2 separate regions of the Homo sapiens genome follow, and region 1 is linked to region 2. The links come from fine-mapping of genetic effects on gene expression. Tissue or cell type: whole blood. Region 2 holds a variant in brackets; the other region holds the start of a gene. All regions are shown on one strand. Distances are from middle to middle.

Evidence for each region. PIP is the estimated chance that this variant, and not a neighbour inherited with it, causes the effect.
Region 1: QDPR starts here. The variant in region 2 is fine-mapped to the expression of QDPR in whole blood (TOPMed, PIP 0.97). The same link has a PIP of 0.9 or more in lung.

Annotation. Positions count from the first base shown.
Region 1 is chr4:17,510,613-17,513,416 of GRCh38, forward strand. QDPR (quinoid dihydropteridine reductase) reads right to left here and starts at 1,478. Exons shown (of 7, transcript NM_000320.3): 1 at 1,338-1,478. The coding sequence starts at 1,442. RefSeq lists a silencer at 1,107-1,686.
Region 2 is chr4:17,476,167-17,478,970 of GRCh38, forward strand. No RefSeq gene overlaps it. Among named protein-coding and RNA genes, the nearest start is that of QDPR, 35 kb to the right of the region's middle. The variant A/AG (reference allele first, on the strand shown) is at 1,358.

The DNA.
Region 1 (2,804 bases), 34 kb after region 2:
AGAGGTAAATCAGCTCTCCAGATTCTGCCAAGACCAAGGTAAACCAAAGTGCCACCACCAGGAGAAAGCACAGCCTTCACCCTCTAACACATGACGCTAACAGGATCTACTGCCTTAAAGATATTGGGGGCATTAAGAGTCTATGGGAACTCTGGTACTGGGAACACAGTGCCTGGCCCTTGGCAGAAGTGCTGCCTCTGTCACCACCATGCATCTCTGAAGACCTGGGAAAGCGCCCTCATCAGTGTCCCCAAGCACTGAGCAGATGGGTGGCAGGAAGGGAGTGGTGTGACTGAATTCTTCAGAAGCATATTCCTGTACCAGATTCTGAGCAACAAGAAAACCTTGGTAAATGTACACTATTTGGGTGATGGTTACACTAAAAGCCCAGACTTCACCACTACACAACATATCCATGTAACTAAACTGTACTTTTGCCCCCTTCATCTATAAAAATTAGATAGTTTTTTTTTAAAGAAAATCCTGAAAGCCTTTTTCTGGTCCCAGGGGAACTCTTGCCCAGGCTGCTGTGCTGCTGCTGCTAACTAAGCTCCCAGAACGCTGCCGCTGGCAGTGTCTCCACCGGGAAATTGCTGAGGCCTGCTGAGCGGCTGAGGTCAAGGGTCTTTGGCCATGTATCAGCTCTGCTCCGACTTGCCGCCTCCTGGAAATTGACACCTGACTATGCAAAGTAGTTGAAATAGTCTTTGCAGAGCAAAGAAGCCGTCAGCGTTTTTCCGTGCTGAGCCTTCAAACTGTCAGATCCAATGGGGCTAAAAGAACAGGGGTGGGTAGTAATAGTAACATTAATAGACAGCATTTAAACAGTTTTTACCAGGCGTCAGGTAATTTATGTGCAACGACACCAATTATCTCATCTAATCGTCCCAACTCTCACTGTCAGAATCTCCGTTGTACAAATGGGGAAACCGAGGTCCTACGGCGTTAGGTAATCAATACGCGGTCTCATGACTAGTAACCGGGACTGGGCTGTCTCATTCTAGAGCCTTCCTTCTACACTCTCTCTCCGTCCTCTCACCCCTGCTCCCGTTCCTCCCCTTTGGAATTCTCTCCCGAGTCACGCCGGACTTTTTGGGTCTGGCGGAGGCCCACGGAGCACCTCCTTGCACAGCAAAGGCCCAGCGCCCTGGGACTGGCGTGCGCACGCACTCGGAAACAGGAATAGACGCGTAGACCTGTGCGCGCACGTGCAAGCAACACGAGTCAGGGGGTGCACAGGGGCCCCCACCTTCCTCTAGACTGCCCCCCGCCGGGTTCCACACGAAAGCCCCCGGCCACCCCCGCGGAGACCCAGCAGCCCCAGCCCGCAGCATTACCCAGTTGCGGGCCCGAAAAGCCTGCACGCATCGAGAACCCAGAGCGCCCCTGCCGCCGTACACCAGCACCCGGCGCGCCTCGCCTGCAGCCGCCGCCGCCGCCATCCTGCTCCTGCCAGCCCGGCTCCCGCAGCTCCGAATGCCTCGAGCCGGAGCGCCGCGCCCCGCCCCGGCCGGCCAACCCCGCCAAGAGGGAACGCGCGGCGGCCGCGCCCCGCTCCGCGCCCGCTGCTGCCGCCTAGCGCGCTGCCACGCTCGGGGCGCCCCGCCACCCGGAGGGACTGTAACTTCGGCCAGGCCCTGCCCCTGGGACGGGGACATCGGCGAAGCCCCTCCTCCCACCCGCCAGCAAGTGCTGGGCCTCGGGGCGTGCAGCGAGCCGGGCTAAGGGCGAGGAGGGTGGAGAGCGGGTGTTTTACGAGCATTAATTTGTGAAGTGTAAGCATGTAAAATATAGTATAGTACAATTTTCGACCACTGTTTTGGCAATTTTTTATTTTTAATTGTGCATCAAAATAGAGATTTAAGTATTCCCACCTGCCAAAAAAACAGAAGAGGTCGCTCCGCTCAAGGAGCTGAAAGTCCACCGCCGAGACGAGACAAACCACACTAGGTCTTATTTCTTCTATCTAACCGTAAATTTATACCCATTAATCCAAATGGCCCTTTTACTATATGCCACCCATCGCCAGACACAGATCCTGGCATTTTCTCCCTTGTATATTAGTTATTTCTGCCCATGGCCTGTATCTTTAACACAGAGCCTCTCATCTACAGCACTACTGACATTTTGGGCCAGATAATTATTTGTGACAGGTGCTGCCCTGGGTACTGTAGGATATTTACAGCATCCCTGGCCTGCATATACTAGAAATCAATAGCAAACCCCTACCCCTCACTCATAAGAATCAAAAATATCTCCAGATTTAACAGTTGTCTCCTAGGGGCAAATTCATCACTGATAGAGAACCAGAGCTCTAACACTCTCATAACCTTCTTGATAGCAGAACCCTGTATTACATACATCTTTGTGTCACTTCCCATCCACATATAACCTTGTACACAGCAGACACAGATGTTTGTTCAGTAAACTTGTGCCAGGTAAAGCATGCAGAAATATGTCACTAGAGAAGAGGATGCAGCCAGCAGCACATTTTGTTGTCAGAAGCTTCATTATCAGAAATAGAACTGCTAGGAGGCTGGATGGAGAGGAGAGCACCATCTATTTAGTGCTCCTTATATCCAAGGCACTGCGCTAAGTGATCTGCCTGTGCTATTTCACTTTACTCCACACGATAATCCTATGCAGATTAGAAAGCTGAGGCATGAGAGTCACAGACACTTGTCTGGAAGAGTGGGAATTTGAACACAGGTCTTCAATAGCTAGAGTTCCACTTAACCACACCTTTGTTCAGCAAGACAAAGGCTTGTTGGGAATCAAGTGTTTCCCTTAGAGTTTTTCTGAAA
Region 2 (2,804 bases):
CGCCTGTAATCCCAGCACTTTGGGAGGCCAAGGCAGGTGGATCACCTGAGGTCAGGAGTTCAAGACCAGCCTGGCCAACATGGAGAAACCCCGTCTCTACTAAAAATATAAAAATTAGCCAGGCGTGGTGGCAGGTGCCTGTAATCCCAGCTACTTGGGAGGCTGAGGCAGGAGAATCGCTTGAACCCGGGAGGTGGAGGTTGCATTGGGCCAAGATCGCACCACAGCACTCCAGCCTGGGCGACAGAGCAAGACTGTCAAAAAAAAAAAAAAGAAGGAAAGAAAGAAAGAAAGAAGGAAGGAAGGAAAGAAAGAAAAGAAGGAAGGAGAAGAGAAAAGAAGAGAAGAGAAAAGAAAAACATTAAGTTTCTTCCAATAATCCCCTGCACAGAGCTCTAGGACAGCAGAAACCCCCGGCACAGTAGGATTTTCTGTCTAATGTGCTTTCTTTATCCCCCACGGAGCTTTGCTCCCCACCGTCTCTGTCTCTAAAATGCCCCCCAGTGGCCTTTATTTTACATCTAAGTGATGGTATTACAATAGAAATTGACCTGAAGGGGAAAAAACTTGGACTCAGCACCAGTTTCCTCCCATGGACAGAGCCTCCGAAACTGACCCTTCCCAATTCTTTTGCCAAGCCCCCAGGAGAGGCTGTCCGTCGCACTTTGAAAGGCAGCATGCAGCCACACCATTCACTTCACTTAGACGCTTTCTATTTCCTGAGATTTTAAGCAGCTGTGACTTAAAAACACTCATAGGTGACAGCAGCATATTGCCCAAGTCCCCAGCTAGACACAATCTGCCACAGAATGTGACCACACCGGGAACACCTCTCCCCAGGCCCCAGGCTATTCCAGAAGGGTGAGTGGTGATATTGCTACCACCCTATCATTGCAACAAGTAGAAACTGAAATTAAGAACTAATGGCTTTGGGGCAAATTAAAAATGCAGAAGTCAGAGGCACTGTTTCCCAGAGAGGCCCACTCTTCCCTCTGAAGTACAGAAAAAAACGGTAAATACTAACCAGCTGCCATCTCACTGAATACCCACAGCCACACCATAAGGGAGATGGTAGCACTCCCATTTTACTGATAGGACACTACATCGGTCAGGGACCAGCCAGAAAACAGAACCACTCCAACAGAGGAAATTTAATAAAGAGGATGGGTCATATCAGAGACGGAAAAATCCAGAATCCAAACAGGGGACAATGAAGCGACCCAGAGATGAGCAACAGTGAGAAGCCACTGCAACTCAAGGGCTGAGAATCAAAGGAAGAGCCGTGGGCAGGCCCTGGGGAGCTGCTTCCACCGAGGAAGGAGCCAGTCAGTGGGAGCGGGGAAAACAGAGGAGACGC[A/AG]CCACAGCTGAAGACGTCACCACTGCCCCTGAGATGCCACTGAGGCAGGAGGGGTAATGGGGATACTGTGCTTCTCCCCTCTCCCCATCCTCCCTTTCTCTACCAGGCCCCCAACTGCCTGACCCTACAGGAAGCCAGGGACAGGGGAGCCTGGAAAATGTGGTGCCTGACATGCAGACTGGGACTGAGAAGGGCAAGCAATAAATGTGAGAAAAGAGGCCAAAGGCTGGCCCATTGCTCGTGGTCCCATAACTACGGTGTGGCAGGGCCAGGTAGTGAACAAAGTGCACCTGTGTCCACCAACCTGCTGCATGGAGGAAGCCACCAAGGAGATGAGAGGCGGACAAAGCAGCAGATGGCAGGAATAAACAGGAGGAGATGTTACCGTCATGCCTCCCTAACCAGAGAATCATACAAACCACCAAGGGTGGCGCTTGGGTGTGGACCCCGGCTCCCTGACTCATTTGCATCACTTAGTAGGGATGTGCGGGATAGTAAGCTTCTCCAAGGCTGTTTCCCTGTCCACTCATTCAGCACTTACTCAACACTGAACAGGTGGAGAGGCACTGTGAAAAATAATGCTTCAGGGGGTAAGAGAAACTAATCTTCATCCCTTCTCTCCTCTACGTTCCTAACCCACCAGGAACAGACAGGAAGGTAGAGGTGAGAAATCAGTTCTGCATAGGCAAGAAGAGGGCAGGAGAGTGAGCAACCCACACAGCCCAAAGTCCATGCAGCAGACCCGCCCCTGGTCCATATGTTCCAGTCAGTCTTTATTTACAGTCTCTCCAATCAGATAAATCCGTCCTTCCTCCTATGGTGAGGAGCAAGTGAGGACCTCAAGAGAGGAAAAGATACATTCCTGCAAAAACCTTCCCATCCTGGAGGCTGAAGAGGTGAATGCCTTAAGGATATACAAGGAAGGATGTATGTAAAACCCCACACACACAGCAGATGGCCCATGAATGCCACATATCATTAGCACATTCAGGGACCAAGTGCCAATGTGCAATCTCTTTTTGTTTGTTTTTGAGATAGGGTCTGTATTAGTCCGTTTTCACGCTGCTGATTAAGATATACCCAAGACTGGGAAGAAAAAGAGGCTTCATTGGACTTACAGTTTCACATGGCTGGGGAGGCCTCAGAATCATGGCGGGAGGCAAAAGGCACTTCTTACGTGGTGACGGCAAGAGAAAAATGAGAAAGAAACAAAAGCAGAAACCCCTGATAAACCCATCAGATCTCGTGAGACTTATTCACTACCACGAGAATAGCATGGGAAAGACCGGCCCCATGATTCAATTACTTCCCCCTGGTTCCCTTCCATTCCCACAACACATGGTAATTCTGGGAGCCACAATTCAAGTTGACATCTGGGTGGGGACACAGCCAAACCAAATCAGGGTCTCACTCCATGATGGCTGGAGTACAATGGCATGATCACAGC